Homo sapiens: one gene and its partners. The protein of the gene in region 4 interacts with the protein of the main gene of each other region in a pairwise test. Each region holds a gene or a part of one and is shown on either strand. Other genes may lie near its edges. The genes, in order: GOLM2, STOM, SNAP29, STX6 and DNAJC5.

What was found.
Region 1: the proteins of STX6 (region 4) and GOLM2 interact in a two-hybrid assay, tested with the Homo sapiens proteins (one large-scale study listed by BioGRID).
Region 2: the proteins of STX6 (region 4) and STOM interact in binary tests that used the Homo sapiens proteins (3 or more experiments, as listed by UniProt).
Region 3: the proteins of STX6 (region 4) and SNAP29 interact in binary tests that used the Homo sapiens proteins (3 or more experiments, as listed by UniProt).
Region 5: the proteins of STX6 (region 4) and DNAJC5 come close enough for resonance energy transfer, tested with the Homo sapiens proteins (one study listed by BioGRID).

What each region holds. Positions count from the first base shown.
Region 1 is NC_000015.10:44,375,711-44,379,229, reverse strand, and holds part of GOLM2 (protein GOLM2), read right to left. Parts: intron 1-3,519.
Region 2 is NC_000009.12:121,342,742-121,346,260, forward strand, and holds part of STOM (stomatin), read right to left. Parts: intron 1-3,519. UniProt on the Homo sapiens protein: Regulates ion channel activity and transmembrane ion transport. Regulates ASIC2 and ASIC3 channel activity.
Region 3 is NC_000022.11:20,872,497-20,876,015, reverse strand, and holds part of SNAP29 (synaptosomal-associated protein 29), read right to left. Parts: intron 1-3,519. UniProt on the Homo sapiens protein: SNAREs, soluble N-ethylmaleimide-sensitive factor-attachment protein receptors, are essential proteins for fusion of cellular membranes.
Region 4 is NC_000001.11:180,988,364-180,991,882, forward strand, and holds part of STX6 (syntaxin-6), read right to left. Parts: intron 1,747-3,519; coding exon 1,621-1,746; intron 1-1,620. UniProt on the Homo sapiens protein: SNARE promoting movement of transport vesicles to target membranes. Targets endosomes to the trans-Golgi network, and may therefore function in retrograde trafficking.
Region 5 is NC_000020.11:63,898,112-63,901,630, reverse strand, and holds part of DNAJC5 (dnaJ homolog subfamily C member 5), read right to left. Parts: intron 1-3,519. UniProt on the Homo sapiens protein: Acts as a general chaperone in regulated exocytosis. Acts as a co-chaperone for the SNARE protein SNAP-25. Involved in the calcium-mediated control of a late stage of exocytosis. May have an important role in presynaptic function.

The DNA of each region.
Region 1 (3,519 bases), on a different chromosome or scaffold from region 4:
GCTGGGATTATAGGTGTGAGCCGCCGCGCCCGGCCCCATCACAGATTTTTTTGACCAATAAATCTGCCCAGAATATAAGCTCCATGACAGTACAAACTGTCTTCGTCACCACTATATCCCCAACATCTAGAACATGCCTAGCATGTAAGAGAAGTTCAACAAAGATTTGATGAATTAATAAAATGGACTGGGCGCAGTGGCTCACGCCTGTAATCCCAGCACTTTGGGAAGTTGAGGTGGGCAGATCACAAGGTCAGGAGTTCAAGATCAGCTTGGCCAACAAGGTGAAACCCCATCTCTACTAAAAATACAAAAAATTAGCCGGGCGTGGTGGTGCGTGTCTATAATCCCAGCTACTTAGGAGGCTGAGATAGGAGAATCACTTGAATCTGGGAGGCGGAAGTTGCAGTGAGCTGAGATCGCGCCATTGCACTGCAACCTGGGTGACAGAGACTTCATCTCAAATAAATAAATAAATAAAATGAATCTCTTCAGATACAGTGATCTTCAACAGTGAGACCTTTTTATATGCATAGCACAAATAAAAATTGACACAAGTTAGGTAAGGTATTAAGAATATGTTATTTTTAGTTGCTCAAATTTTCTTTTCTTTTCTTTTATTTACTTATTTTGAGACAGAGTCTTGCTCTGTCGCCCAGCTTGGCCAACAAGGTGAAACCCCATCTCTACTAAAAATACAAAAAATTAGCCGGGCATGGTGGTGCGTGTCTGTAATCCCAGCTACTTAGGAGGCTGAGACAGAAGAATCTCTTGAACCTGGGAGGTGGAGGTTGCAGTGAGCTGAGATCAGGCCACTGCACTGCGGCCTGGGCGATAAGAGTGAAAACTCTATCTCAAAAAAAAAAAAAAAAAAAGTCCTGGCGCGGTGGCTCACGCCTATAATTCCAGCACTTTGGGCAGCCGAGGCGGGCGGCTCACGAGGTCAGGAAATCGAAACCAACCTGGCTAACATCGTGAAACCCCGTCTCTATTAAAAATACAAAAAAATAAAAATTAGCCGGGCGTGGTGGCGGGCACCTGTAGTCCCAGCTACTTGGGAGGCTGAGGCAGGAGAATGGCGTGAACCCGGGACGCAGAGCTTGCAGTGAGCCGAGGTCACACCACTGCACTCCAGCCTGGGTGACAGAGCAAGACTCCGTCTCAAAAAAATAAATAAATAAATAAATAAATAAATAATTTAAAAAATATATATATATACTTCTTAATAACATGTTCCTATAGAAAACTTGGAAAAATAGAAAAGCACAAAGAAATTAAACTTTAACTGTAGTACTACAACTTAAAGATAACCACTGTTATCATCTGAAGAGTATCTCTCTGGTGGGTTTTTTTTTATTTCTGTACATTATACTGTATACCTTAAAATTAGGGTTATATCATATATACTATCTTATAATCTTTTTTATTTGTATTTTACACATATTTTCCACGTCATTCCATTTTTCTCTACATTATTACCAAATGATAGTGCTGAATCAAAACTCTCAATTTTATAGTTTTGGCTAGAGAGATCTGGGTAAAAAATTGCCACAAGGGGCCAGGAAAGGTGGCTCACGCCTGTAATTCCAGCACTTTGAAAGACCGAGGCATGTGAGTCACTTGTGGCCAGAAGTTTGAGACCAGCCTGGCCAAAACAGCAAAACCCCATCTCTACTAAAAAATACAAAAAATTCAGCCTGGCGTGGTGGCACACGCCTGTAACCCCAGCTACTTGGGGGCCTGAGGCACCAGAATTGCTAGAACCTGGGAGGTGGAGGTTGCAATGAGCCAAGGCCGCGGCACTGCACTCCAGCCTGGGTTGCAGAGTCACAAGGATTATTTTTATTTTTTATTTTCTGAGACAGGGTTTTGTTCTGTTGCCCAAGCTGGAAGGCAATGGCAAAATCATCACTCACTGCAACTTCAACTTCCTGGGCTCAAGTGATCCTCCCAGCTCAGCCTCCCAAGTAGCTGGGACCACAGGCTTGCACTACTACACTTGGCTAATATTTTATTTTTTGTAGAGACGAGGTCTTACTATGTGGTCCGGGCTGGTCTCAAACTCCTGGCCTCAAGCAATTGTCCCACCTTGGCCTCCCAAACTGCTGGGATTATAGACGTGAGCCATCATGCCCAGCTCCCAAAAACTTTAGAGCCCCATAAACTGTAACAACTTAACTAGTTGGTGGATAGACTTTTACTGACATAAGAAAAAGCAGTGTGTATCCTGTAAACACTTTGATTTCTATGCTTTTATTTTGCCTTTTGTTTACTTTCCTTTTTTTGTTTTCTTGAAAAATTCCTTTTAGAAAACCCCAGCCTTGGTTTTGTTGAACTAAGGAGAAAGGTATTTATTTATACCTAGGATAGAATAGTTAGAGGGCTTCCCAGAGGCCAGAAGTAATAGTTATAAGCCCCACACCTACTATATACCTAAAAAATTAAAAATTAAAAAAAGAGGTAATTATTATAGTTAGTCGTACTGAAACAAACGATGATCTAGAAAAATGCTAGCTGACTTGGAGACAATTAAGAGTGCTAACCTTACCCTCCAATTTTGTATAGGAGATACTTGTGTATACATATACAAGTATCTATTTTTTTCCTCCACAAAAATGAGATTATGTTATACTTGTTTTCTTGTAACCTGTTTTCTTTTTAATTTAAAAAATCACAGATACAGATTGAGCACAGTGTCTCATGTCTGTAATCCCAATATTTTAGGAGGCCAAGGCAGGAAGATCATTTGAGCCCAGGGGTACCTAGCAAGACTCTGTCTCTACTAAAAGTAAATACAATTAGCTGGGTGGGGTGGCACACATCTGTAATCCAGCTACTCAGGAGGCTGAGATGGGAGGATCACTTGAGCCCAGGAGGCTAGGGCTGCAGTGAGCCACCACTGCACTCCAGCCTGGGTGACAGAGGGAAACACTGTCTTAAAAACAAGAAACAACATAGGTATCTTTGTTTTTTGTTTTGTTTTGTTTTGTTTTTTGAGACGGAGTTTTGCTCTTGTTGCCCAGGCTGGAGTGCAATGGCGCGATCTCGGCTCACCACAACCTCCGCCTCCCCGGTTCAAGCGATTCTCCTGCCTCAGCCGTCCCAAGTAGCTGGGATTATAGGCATGCGCCAAGCCCAGCTAATTTTGTATTTTTAGTAGAGATGGGGTTTCTCCATGTGGGTCAGACTGGTCTCGAACTCCTGACCTCAGGTGATCCGCCCACCTCGGCCTCCCAAAGTGCTGGGATTACAGGCGTGAGCCACCACATCCGGCCCAACATATATATCTTTGTATGCCAATAAATATAGCTCAGCATCATCCTTTTTAGTGGCTACATATTACACTTTTATGGATATAACAAATTTAATGAACCCTCCCTATAAGATTTCCATGGTTTTTAATTTATCATTATAAACCATTTATGATAAGCATTCATTTTTTTAATTTTTTTGAGAAGTCTTGCTGTGTTACTCAGGCTGGAGTGCACCAGTGTGATCACAGCTGACTGGAGCCCCGAC
Region 2 (3,519 bases), on a different chromosome or scaffold from region 4:
TTCTTGGCAAGTACATAAATTCAAGATGAAAAATTTTTACATGCCGATTTAAAATGTTTGATGGACTTTATAGTTTTTCTAAATTCTGTAAGGGGTTTCACAGGCAAAAAAGTTTGAAGATCACTCGAGTAGTAGACAGAACAGGAGTTCTGGAGTCAAATGGACTTGAGTTCAAATCCCAAATCTAACATTTACCAGCCGAATGTCCTCAGAGAGGTTACTGAACATCCTGAACCTCAGTTTCCCATTCTTAAAGCAGACTAACATGTACTTCAGAGGACCACTTGTGAGGAAGACAGAGAAAGTATATAAAGTGTTAAATGAATAAAGGGGGCTATTATAGAGGAATGGCAAGTGACAAGACCTGATTTTTGGGTCCAACTATGCTTTAATGCACAAAAGATTCAAGGTAGTTACTTTAATTCATAATCCTAGAAGAAGGAAAGGTATTAAGACACCATAATTATCAAGATTAAAAGTACAATTTCTCCAGGTTATTATCCTCACTTGAATCTTGAATAATTAATGGTCCATAATACTCCATGAATATCAGAATTGGAGGTGATGGTCTTATGCCCAGTGAGATTTCATTCACTCACACAGCAAAATTTGGGGGCCTTCTAGGGTTAATAAGCCCTGTGTAGGAAAAGCTAAGGATAGAGTGGAATCCCTAGCCTTCTTCAGCTCCTGGTCAGGTAGGGAAGGCAGACATGGAAGTAGATCATTTCATTCTAGTGTGATAAATGCTGACAGACATATGTACAAGGCACAGTGCAAGCAAACAGAAGAAAGCAACTTTTCCAGAGGGTGACGTGGTGAGGTTATAGAAGTTGAATATTAAATGATAAAATGTTTGCTGTTTAGAAAAAGATGAGGAAGAATATTTTGGGCAGAACACATGAAACGGTACTGAGGTATAAAAATGGTATATTCCAGAAAACTGTCAATGGCTGAATACTATGGCAGGAAGAGGGGAAAGGTGGGGGATGAATGGGGCCGGGTTCTGAAGGGCAGTGAGGGCCAGGGTGTTTGGTCTTCATTCTGTAGGCAATGGGAAGCTGCAGAATGATTTTAAGCAGGTAAGTAAACTCCATCAGATCTAGTTTGAAAAAGCTCTCTGACAGATGTCTGAGGTTAGAAGAGAAGGCAGTGAAAGCTGCTAGTGGAACTGCTTTAGAGTGGCCGGTGCGATTCATAGGTGGTGGGGACAGAGAATGAAATGGTTTGGGGAGCTATTCTCCCTCCCCGAAGGAGGGCGAATCAGTGGAATTTGGAGACTAGGTAGGAGGAGGAAAGGGGGACACAGGCTGAGACCCAGGTTTCCAGGTTTTGGTTGCATAGATTAGTGCCATTAATGGAGATAGGATACAGAATATAGTACTCACTGAGAGAAAGGATCCAGCTTATAGGATAAAAACCTTAATTTATCAAAGCCACACATCATGTCCTGCCTAGGTCTGTGAGAAGGGACAAGTGCCAGCTTTGCTCAAAGAAAACCACAGAACTGTATTCCAAGGTAGGCACTACAGAGAATACATCAGAAATCCCCTGCTATGAGAGCAGCAGGCTCTCATTTTTTCCATATCATCTCAGATGTCCAATTAGGCACTTTTTTCTTTGGACATGGACCAACTGAAAAGATATCTCATTTCCCACCACCAATCAATACACAATCGCTTGGCTGAGAAGCCAGACCCACCGGGCTGGGCACACATTTTGTTCATAGAAAAGCCACACTGAGCAAGCTGCCAAAGATGTAAACAACACCACCGGCTTTGTCTAAATACAGGCCAAGTACACTCCGTTGATAGGATCTTAGAGAGCAAAGCAAGCTATTTGTGGGTGTGCACGGCTTTTGTCGAATGTGCAGTAATCTCATAGCAATCAACATTTCATATTTATAGAACATCATTTTAAAGTCTGGCATTTTCATGTATGTGAAATTGGTGCTACCTGTCCCTTCTGCAGACCAGGTGGTCTGGGCAGAGGAAAAGGCAGAGAAAGGTGATCTGTATTTCTGCACTCCATCCTCTCAATTAATAGACTTCTACACCCAGAAACATGAGCCCAAAAGCATGTGCCAGGTGTTTTTCTGAGAGTTATGAAAAGGAAATAAAAGCTGATGCAAACACAAAAGATATTACATTTCAGGCCACTAAGAGCTGGTCTAAACACTTTAAAAACCAAACCTAACATACAGAGAAACACGTAGGAGAATCTGTCCTCTTCTGTGACCGGCTTCTTTCACTCAAATTATGTGTGTGAGCACTTACATTCATTCTCTTTGCTATGTAGTATGCCTACATGTGAATAAACCAGACTTCATTCATTCAGCTAGGAATGGACATTTGGGTATTCTACAGTTTGGGTCAATGTGCTGCTGTGAACATTCTAGTACATGCCTTTTGGTAAACATATGAGTGCATTTCTGTTAGATTCATACTTAGGAGTTGGAGCTGCTGGCTCATAGGGTATACAAATGTTCAGTATGAATAGACATTGCCAGACTGTTTTCCACAGTGGTTGTATTAAGTTACACTGCCACCAGCAGAATATGAGAGTTCTAGTTCCTCTCTCACCCACACTTGGTTCTTTTCCGTTCTTTTCAGGCCATTCTGATAGCTGTCTAGTGTGACATCCGCTTATAATGTGAATTTGCATTTCCCCGATGGCTAATTAGCCTAAGGAATTTTTCTATAAAGTCTCTTAATCTTTAGATTATTCCACTCTATCTCACCTTTCCTGTGCAATTTATTTGTTGAAGAAACTGTGACCCCCCTATTTTCCATGAGAATTTCAATACAATAAGCCTATGGTTGTTGCAGGGTTACTGTATTTTACAGAAGGGCTAGGCTCATTGTGATTCTATGTGTGAACTCCAAGACAGTCACTGCCCAGGTTCATGAGACTGCTTCTAGACTAACCCTACAGCCCCGTCCAAGTGGGAGCATGGCAATTCAGAATTCTAAGCGGTTTCTTCTATCTTTTCTTACTGTTATAAAGGGAAGATAGAAATTTTCTTTCCAAACTCTTAAGAATGCTATGGAAGAGGCTCATAGCCCATCCTGGGAAGTCAGTACTAGAGGAGGCAATGAGGAGCAGAGGGGAATTCTAATTTCCACTGCTACTAATCAACTGTGCGACCTTGCGGACGTCACTTAACTTTTCAGAGCTTCAATTTTTCCTTTGAATAGTGGGATGGCAAACAAGTTTCATTTTTTTTTAAGTTTTTATTATTATTAATTTTTTATTTAATTTAATTTTTTTGAGAAGAAGTCTTGCTCTGTCGCCTGGGCTGAAGTGCAGTGGCGCAATCTCAGCTCACTGCAACCTCCACCTCCAGGGTTCAAGCAATTCTCCTTCTCAGCCTCCCCAGTAGCTGGGATTACAGGCGCCTACCACCACACCAGGCTACTCTTTGTATTTTTAGTAAGGACGGGGTTTCACCATGGTGGCCAGGCTGGTCTTGAACTCCTCACCTCAGGTGATCCACCCACCTCAGCCTCCCAAAGTGCTGGG
Region 3 (3,519 bases), on a different chromosome or scaffold from region 4:
CTAATTTTTTGTATTTTTAGTAGAGACGGGGTTTCACCGTGTTAGCTAGGATGGTCTCGATCTCCTGACCTCGTGATCCGCCCACCTTAGCCTCCCAAAAGTGCTGGGATTACAGGCGTGAGCCACTGCACCCAGCCGCCCCCCCATTTTTTTTTTTGGTCGTCCATGTAAATATGACTACAGGCCTGTATCACCATGCCCAGCTTTAAAAATTTTTTATGTTTGTAGAGACAGAATCTTGCTATGTTGCCCAGGCTGATCTTCAACTCCTGGCCCCAAGTGATTGTCCTGCCTTGGCCTTATAAAATGTTGGGATAACAGGCATGAGCCACTGTGTCTGGCCCTGCTGGGCCCTTGAAATGGCCAACAACTTCCTTCATCCCGGCTTCCCCTGTGCTTTTACTGCCATGTGCCTGCACCAACCCCTCCTTCAATTGGTGGGTTCCCTCAAAACCTTCACCTTCTGCAAAAAGTCAGGTCCTTTGTGCAGCCTTCCTCTGTTCCCAGGGCCAACCTCCCTCTCCTCTGGGTCCCCACTGCATCCCTGTGGACTGTCTGCCTCCCCCATATCTTCCAACAGACAGACTGCATTCCTGCAGCTTCTGCTCCCACAGAACTGCAGAGTGTGGGTGAAAGTTTTGCTTTCTTGAATTTACTAAGAGATGGCAAGAATGCTACAACTGATTGGGGCTAATCTAGGGGCAGGCCAGGCAGGGTACATGACTTTGGGGACCTTGACGGGAACGCATCAGCTTTAAGTGGAAATGAGAACAAGCAGCTTGGAAAGCTGTCAGCAAGGACAAACAGGACTTCCCAAGAGACAAAGCCCACCTCACTGAAATAACTATGGCTGCCTCACTGATGGAAGCCTTTGCTGGGAAGCCCCTGAGTTTTCATGATGCTCCAAAAAAAGAAAACTGCCCCTGGAGCCACAGGACTTCCATGGCTTTCATAGCTATGTTCAGGGATGCAGGGGCCTCCAAGAGCCCCAGAAGCAGCCTTTGTGAAGAGGTATGTAGGATGTGGAAGGGTGTGAAAGGGTGCTAGTCACAAACTTGCCAGCTTCCCACTCCTCCAAGGGCTCACTCTGCTCCTGAGTTTGTACATGGAGGATGTCTTAGACCAAAACAAATGAACATCCTACCTTCTCCTATGGCAATTAAATGTGGCCAAAGATTAGGATATAAAACATCTTTCTGATATGTATATTGAAAAAAAAACAACAAAAAACAAGCAACGACTAGAACTGGAGGGAAATGGCGGATGTTTAAAATTAGGGTTGAGCTGGAGAACCCAGAATGGTGATTATGGCTGAGCCAAAAAAACCAACCAACCCTCATAACCTTAGCTAGTGCCTCCCCAGGGCACTCACTGAGGCCGGCAGGTTCCCAGGGCCAACTCTGCAGGTCCCTCCTGCAGTACTTTTTTTTTTTTTTTTTTTGAGATAGGGTCTCACTCTGTCACCCAGGCTGGAGTAGACTGGTACAATCATAGCTCATTGTAGGCTCAACCTCCCTGGGTTCAGGTGATCCTCCCACCTAAGCCAAAAGGTCGGGTCCACCTCAGCCACCTCAGTAGCTGGGACCACAAGCACGTACCACCATGTCCGGCTAATTTTCGTGTGTGTGTGTGTGTGTGTGTGTGTGTGTGTGTGTGTGTGTGTGTGGCTAATTTTCGTGTGTGTGTGTGTGTGTGTGTCTGTGTGTGTCTGTGTGTGTCAGAGTCTTGCTCTGTCGCCCAGGCTGGAGTGCAGTGGCGTGATCTCAGCTCACTGTTGCAGTGGCGTGATCTCAGCTCACTGTAAGCTCCGCCTCCTGGGTTCACGCCATACACATTTCTCACCCTCCCGAGTAGCTGGGACCACAGGCGCCCGCCACCACACCCGGATAATATTTTGTATTTTTAGTAGAGACGGGGTTTCACCGTGTTAGCCAGGATGGTCTCAATCTCCTGACCTCGTGCTCCGTTGGCCTTGGCCTCCCAAAGTGCTGGGATTACAGGCGTGACTCACCATGCCCGGCCTTTTTTTTTTTTTTTTTTTTTTTTTTTTTGAGACAGAGTCTCACTGTTACCCAGGCTGAGGTGCAGTGGTGCAATCTCCGCTCACTACAACCTCTGCCTCCCAGGCTTAAGGGATTCTCCTCCTCAGCCTCCCAAGTAGCTGGGGCTACAGGCAGGCACCACCATGCCTGGCTGATTTTTGTATTTTTAGGAGACACTGGGTTTCACCATGTTGGCTGGCCTGGTCTCACACTCCTGACCTCAAACGATGCACCCGCCTCGGCCTCCCAAAGTGCTGGGATTACAGGCCTGAACCACCATGCCCAACTTCATTTTTGTGTTTTTCTGTAGAGACGGGGTTTTGTCATGTTGCTCAGGCTGGGATCAAGTGATCCTCCTGCCTCAGTCTCCCAAATTGCTGGGATTACAGGCATGAGCCACCATGCCTGAACCTCTCCATAACTCTTGATGGCTTCGCCTGCCTGTTCTTTCTGCCATCACCACCAGCTTTGTTACCTACACTGGTTTCTCCCCAGCCCCACTCTGAGTTTGAAGTAGTTATCTAATTTCCTCCCTGCCACACCCTACATCTTGATCTGGGTGGTGGCCACACTAGTGTACACAGGTTCACAGTCACTGGCTCTCCACTTAAGATGCACATATTTTACTGTACCTTAGTGATGCATTAAAAAAAACGGCTCTGCAGTTAGGTGTGGTGGCTCATGCCTGTAATCCTAGCACTTTGGGAGGCCGAGGTGGGAGGACTGCTTGAGGCCAGGAGTTCAAGACCAACCTGGCCAACACAGCAAGACCTCATCTCTTAAAAAATAAATAAATAAAATGAAAAAGAAAAGCTCCACATTACAGAATTAAAACAAAGAGAGAGGCCAGGTGTGGTGGCTCACGCCCATAATCCTAGCACTTTGGAAGGCTGAGGCGGGCGGATCATCTGAGATCAAGAGTTCGAGACTATCCTGGCCAACATGGAGAAACCCCATCTCTCCTAAAAATACAAAAATTAACCAGGCATGGTGACACATGCCTGTAATCCCAGCTACTCAGGAGGCTGAGGCAAGAGAATTGCTTGAACCTGGGAGACAGAGGTTTCAGTGAGCTGAGATGGTGCCACTGCACTCCAGCCTGGGCAACAGAGTGAGACTCTGTCTCAAAAAAAAAAAAAAAAAAAAAAAAAAAGCCTGGCGTGGTGGCTCGGCACTCTAGGAGGCTGAGGCAGGTGGATCACCTGAGGTCAGGAGTTTGAGACCAGACTGGCCAACATGGTGAAACCCCATCTCTACTAAAAATACAAAAATTAGGCCGGATGTGGTGGCTCACGCCTGTAATCCCAGCACTTTGGAAGGCGGAGGCGGATGGATCACGAAGTCAGGAGGTCGAGACCATCCTGGCTAACACGGTGAAACCCCGTCTCTACTAAAAATACAAAAAATTAGCCAGGCATGGTGGCAGGCGCCTGTAGTCCCAGCTACTCGGGAGGCTGAGGCAGGAGAACGGCATGAA
Region 4 (3,519 bases):
GAAATAAGCAATTAAAATCCATCTTACCTGGTTCCAAGCCCAGCACTCTAGCAGCTGCTAGTTTCTTTGCCAACTTGGGACAATTCACATTCAGAAGCAAAGCCCAGAAATCAAAGGACCAGACCGTTGCCTCTGAGAACACACTGCTCAAAAGGCTGGATTGTTAAGCTACTGATATCTCCTGCTGATCCAACTTGTGAACAGTCAGCGGGGCTTGAAACCACCAAGAGAGATTTACTCTGGTTGGCTGACGTCCAATAATGGAGCAGACAATGGTTGAAAGCACACGTGCAGATGACCATTGAGACATGGGGATGTTTGGGAGGAGGAAGCCCATTGCCAAGATCAAGGTCTCAATCCACAACAGACTGCCACAGCTTAAATACAAGAGAGTCTGGCAAATCTCTGGATGTGGGGAAACTATGCAGTCTTTCCTCTCTCTTCAAGGACAAACGAAAGGATTCCCTGTGGCAATAAGTTACCTCAAGGACAACTACTGACTGACAAATATTTACTTTTAGTTGTGTTGCATTCTTCTCACTTTCTATAGAAAAAAAATTTCCTGGGTTTAATAGCAATTTAAGTAGACAACTGGTTAAGCAGACATACTAATGTAAAGAACAAAAGAACATATAAACTACATGTATACATAAAACACAATATTTAAGAATCAATAGTTTCAATGGGTACATGCTCCTCAAATCCCCAGACACATTATCATTAGCTTGCTTTTATTAATACAGCTACATATCAAAGGCATCAACAGACATAATCAATTTCATTTTCCTTCTACCCCTTAACCTACACAAAAGCAGTCATCTTTACATATAACAAAACCAACCAATAGGCCGGGCGCGGTGGCTCATGCCTGTAATCCTAGTACTTTGGGAGGCTGAGTCAGGTGGATTGCCTGAGCTCAAGAGTTCGAGACCAGCCTGAGAAACAAGGTGAAACCCCGTCTCTACTAAAATACAAAAAAAAAATTAGCTGGGCGTGGTGGCGTGCACCTGTAGTCCCAGCTACTCAGGAGGCTGAGGCAGGAGAACTGCTTGAACTCGGGAGGCGGAGGTTGCCGTGAGCCGAGATGGTGCCACTGCACTCCAGCCTGGGTGACAGAGTGAGACTCCGTCTCACAAAAAAAAAAAAAAAAAAGAAACCAATCAATAATTTTCGAAGAAAAAAATGAGAGATCTTTCTGAAAGTGTCTTTGCTGAGATGGACAAAGGTCTGTTTTTTCTAAGAGAACTAACTGAGCTTGGTTCTTTATTTTTTTAGAGAAAGGGTCTTGCTCTGTCACCCAGGCTAGAATGCAATGGCATGATCGAAGCTCACTGTAGCCTTGAACTCCTGGGCTCAAGGATCCTCCAGCCTCAGCCTCCTCAGTAGCTAGGACTAAAGGTGTGAGCCACCACGCCTGGCTGAGCTTGGTTCTCTTGAAGCAGTCACACTGTGAAGATTTTGAAACCCTTTACATATGCAATTATTAAACACAATCAACACAGGACAAGCTCTGGCTTACCCTCCTTGTCACTAAGCCACAAGACCCCATGGCTGGCAAAGGAACTAAGGGGGTGTCTTGTTTCCCACTGGCCCGTCCTAAGTCTGGGGTCCTTGGGGTACCTGCTGCTGTGCCTGCTGCTCCTCAATGAAATGAGAATTGGCTCTCTGGAGCTCTCGGTCCAGACGCCCATATTTATCTGTTGTTCCAGTGCTCCAGTTCTGGCTGCCACTGTCTCCCAGCAGTGCCTGTGTGAGAAGAACAACCAGAGGAGTCAGGAGAAACAAACAATTACTATCTCTGAACAAGTGATGCATCAAGAGTGATATAAAGAGTTTTCACATTTCTTGTCTATTTTCCCCTGGGCAAGGCTTTTATGTAGTGGTGTAGGTTGGTGCCTGGGTGGTACTATTTAAGGAATTCCAGGAAGGGCCCTCTATGTCTTTAAGCTCTCCCAATAGGCCTCACAATGGGCTTTGTCCCCTTAAAGTGCAAATAAACGTCTGCTAAATCAACAAACACCCATCTATATACTGTGTTATAATTGAAAAGCATTCAATCTCTTGTAAAAGAGCTCTTCCTGGTACCTGTGGAACTTCAGCAACCCATAGGTTCCAGTCAACCTGATTCCGAAGATCTAGAGTACTTTTTTAAAAAAAGTGTGACCCAGGGGAAGTTGTGGGTTTTTTTGGTGGGGGGAAAGGGAGAGTTCCCTGGAATGACAAGAAGGTAAGCCATAGCCCTTCACACACAAAGGCACAAGAACCATCAATGTCTGTTAAGTTTAACCCATGAATAGAATCCAGGGTCCTTCAGGCTTTCCAGATGACAACTGGGGGTTACTTTACAGGCAGGTATGACCACAAGGAATGCCTGACCCTGGCAACCGAGGCAAGGGCTGCCCTAAAGTCAGAGTTCTCCACCAGGGCTCCCAGACACAAGGGTCGGGTTTCCCAAGTATGAATTCAAGGAAGTTTGCAGCCATAAATGGGTATGTCTTCCTCACATGAAGAAGACAGGCAGGAATGTGAGAGTTCCATCTCAGCAGTTGGTTCTGACCAGATCCCCACAAGCCTTCCTGACTGGTCAAAGTAACTGCTCACACCAGCCCCGCAGGCAAGAGCCAGAAGACGCTAGCAACTAAGACTCTTTTTCCTTGTAGAGTTGCCAAATTTTCCTATCGGGTAATTTAAAAAAAATCTCAGGCACTATTAAAAGCCTGCCTGGTTACTTGGTTCTGTCTGAAAACCCTTCCAACAGCCCCATGACCTTCCTCCATACTGACACTGACCTCTTCTCAGACTGCGAGGGGTGAACTCCATCAAATGGCCAGACTTCAGGGGCTAGGATCAGGGAAGCTCAGTTATTAGAAGCTTTTCTTACAAGAGCTTCCAGGGGCCCAGAGCTTCAGTCCAGCTGGATGGTGACTGTCTCTGGTGTAAAGCAGATCCAAGGCTTTTTGTGGGTGGCTCTGCCCTGACCTGGTCTTAGGGCTATCAAGACTGAAAAGATCCTGCTCATTATGATCCACACTCTAAGGACCTCTATGGAAGACATGAGGAAATAGTGACAATTTTTTTAGGGTCAGAAAAATGCTATAATGCATCACTGGCCTAAGGACAGAGAACTGGGACACCACCAGGGCCTTGTGTGCTCCTGAGGTCACAGGGCTATTTTTCCTACGTTTTCCATGGTGTACACTTAGGTAGAGCTAAGTATAGGGCAAATCATCCACGTTTTATTGTGAAATAGCTTAAAGTTCATCAGTCTGATCCCAAATGTTTGTGATAATAGGATAGAGATTGAGAGAGGGCCCAAGGACTGGAAGATGCACCTGTGTGTGGGTGCCAGAGCAGGGGTGCTGGTGAGGCAAGGAGCAGCACAGAGCCTGGCACCTGGCACAACGTGGCAAGGCCCATGCCTGCTGGAGTGCTTAGAGAGCCCTGATCCTGCTATTCCTTGAAAATTTGCAACTTGACATTTCACTCATAGCCTAAAACAAAATTCCAAGCCATAACTAG
Region 5 (3,519 bases), on a different chromosome or scaffold from region 4:
TCACTCCTCCCGTCAGGCACCTGCAGCCTCGTCCGGGGTAGAGGCCTCTGGCCTGGGCTCGCCTCCACTCTGAGACTGATGTGGAGCGCGCGGACGCAGCCTCTGGCACCTGAATTCAGCTCCTGCTTCTTCAAGGGTCAAGAGTAAGACGGGATATTTTCGTTCTGCAGTTTCACTAGAACACATTTCCACCCTACCTGGTGAAAAAATAGAGGCACAGGGCAGGGAGAGCTCTCCCCGAAGTCAGCCGCGCTCTAGAGACAGCAAGGAGGGCAGGGCACAGCCGATGGGGCTGGGAAGTCGATTCCATCTTCCGACCTGCCAGCATCATGATTTCATAACAGGCACAGAATGCCTCAGAACGCAGATTGAGCACAGTGGCTCATGCCTGTAAACCCAGCACCTTGGGAGGCCAAGGTGGGTTGATTACTTGAGTTCAGGAGTTTGAGACCAGCCTGGACAACATGGTGAAACCCCATCTCTACTAAAAATACAAAAATTAGCTGGGCGTGGTGGCACACGCCTGTAATTCCAGTTACTCAAGAGGCTGAGGCAGAAGAATCACTTGAACCCGGGAGGTGGAAGCGGCAGTGAGACACGATCGTGCCACTGCACTCCAGCCTGGATGACAGAGCGAGACTCCGTCTCAAACAAACAAAGAATCCCTGGACACAGCAATGCAGACACTACATGGCTCTGGACACTTCACCTCGTAAATGATTATTTCTGCTGGTGATACATGTTCAATGTAGAATATTTAAAGGGACAATACAATTATAAACCCATGAAAAATAAGATTCATTCACATCCATATTCAAGGAATCTTCACTAAGCACTCACAACACAACACAAAAATTTAAAAATGTCACTCAGGTTTAATATGTCAAGAATAAATGACAAAGTTCTCTGTCATAGAAATAAGTTTTTTGAAACCATTCATGCAAAATGTAGAATGATGTTGCAACAAAGTTAAATTGTGGCATATGCAGGTCTGTCCTGAGGAGGAAATTATTGATCAATACAGAACTTCCTTTTTTTTTTTTTTTTTTTTTTTGAGACAGTGTCTTGCTCTGTCGCCCAGGCTGGAGTGCAGTGGAGCAATCATGGCTTGCTGCAGCCTCAGCCTCCCAGGCTCAGGTGATCCTACCACCTCAGCCTCCGAGTAGCTGGGACTACAGCTGCATGTCACCATACCCGGCTAATTGTTTCTAGTTTTAGTACAGATGGGGTTTTGCTATGTTGCCCAGCCTGGTCTTCACTTCTGGACTCTAGCAATCCGCCTGCCTCGGCCTCTCAAAGTGCTGGGATTACAGGCATGAGCCACTGCACCAGCCCAGAATTTTCAGAGACATGTCCCAAACCTGGTCTAAGTACTTCTTTCTTTAGAAAATGAGATGCTGGTTGGACGATCACTTGAGTCCAGGAGCTCAAGACCAACTTGGGGCTGGGCTCAGTGGCTCACGCCTATAATCCCAGCACTTTGGGAGGCCAAAGTGGGTGGATCACCTGAGGTCAGGAGTTCAAGACCAGCCTGGCCAACATGGCAAAACCCCATCTCTACTAAAAATACAAAAATTAGCCGGGTGTCATGGCAGGCGCCTGTAATCCCAGCAACCCAGGAGGCTGAGGCAGGAGAATCACTTGAACCTAGGAGGCAGAGGTTGCCATGAGCGGAAACCGTACCGTTGTACTCAAGCCTGGGTGACAGAGTGAGACTCCGTCCCCCAACCAAAAAAAAAAAAAAAAAAAAGCCCAGGCGCAGTGGCTCACACCTGCAATCCCAGCACTTTGGGAGGCCAAGATGGGCGGATCACAAGGTCAGGAGATCGAGACCATCCTGGCTAACACCGCGAAACCCTGTCTCTACTAAAAATACAAAAAATTAGCCTGGCGTGGTGGCGACCGCCTGTAGTCCCAGCTACTCGGGAGGCTGAGGCAGAAGAATCACTTGAACCCAGGAGGCAGAGGTTGCAGTGAGCCAAGGTCACGCCACCGCACTCCAGCCTGGGTGAGAGAATGAGACTCCGTCTCAAAAAAACAAAAGAAAATGAAATGCTGTCCTAATTTCTGCAATTTCAATTTGAAATATCAATGCTTGCAAAACTCATACAAGTTAAAACAATTTTTATTTCTAATGACCTGTATCTATTAAATGTCTGTGATGTACCAAGAATAAAGCAGAACACACTTCCTCATTAACACACATGCACCCAAAGTTAATGCAAAGGGTGATGAGAGACAAAATCTACACTCAAGGTTGTTGGGTAATCTAATCCTTAAATCTTCTGGGTTGAACTGCCTGTGACTGATAACAGACTAGCTGCTAATCCTCTTCAGGGATGTCATTATCTGAGGGGTCCTGGCATGGCAGTCCCAGCTCCTAGATTAGGGGTGGCATTTTCATAAAACAAGACTATTACTGTTTTTCAGCCTCTTTGTCCCTTCTATTTAGGAAGCAGGTGATGAGACACCTTTCATTTACTGCCTCCTTTTTTCTCCCAGCAGGACGCAGGGGAAGCACCACTACCCTCATCTGACAGAACGCAGAGGCTCAGAGTCACAGCGGCCCCAGTCACGTGAGCCCTGATCTTGTCCTCTTTCACGAAGGAAGGCCTAGCACAGATTCTGCTGCCACAGTGGGAAGGCCTATGGCGGGGCAGGAGGTGTGTCTGACAGAAGACGGTGCTTCTTGGACACATCTCAGGACTTTGTGGCACGAGAACGTTCTAATCAGAACATCACGATGAGTCTCACCTTAGAAGCACTGCAGTTTGTTTGTTTGTTTGTTGTGAGAGGGAGTCTCGCTCTGTCGCCCAGGCTGGAGTGCAGTGGTGCTATCTCAGCTCACTGCAACCTCTGCCTCCCGGGTTCAAGCAATTCTCCTGCCTCAGCCTCCCTAGTAGCTGGAATTACAGGTGCCCGCCACCACACCCAGCTATTTTTGTATTTTTAGTAGAGACAGGGTTTCACCATGTTGGCCAGGATGGTCTCGATCTCTCGATCTCAAGATCTGCCCGCCTCGGCCTCCCAAAGTGCTGGGATTACTGGTGTGAGCCACCGTGCCCGGCCTAGAAGCACTCATTCTAACTGCCCACTTGGAGATAACTGGAGTGTTAAGGGTCTCTTCTCTATGTCTTGTGCAGGGCTAGCCACCATGTTCCATTTCTCTACAAATGGCTTTTTCCAACCCAGCCCGAGGACCCAGGGGTCTGTTTCCTTCCTGGAGAAATACTGCTTTCATTTGCTGTTACAGTTTACCTGCAGCATTACATACTCCTAACTGGGTATCACATTCACCTTACTGCCTGATTTCAGAAGCAAACTCCACCTCAGATAAAATTCTACCTTATCATGACTCCCCGCCCCACTGCATTTTAGTCATTCATTCAACAAACACCAACTGCTAACCCCAGGCACACACGTGAGCACCTCACATCTGGGCTCTAAGGATAAAACCACCAGCACCTTGTACAGGGCTCTTCCTGGTGATGCCAAATACTTAGAAGAAACCTGGTCTAG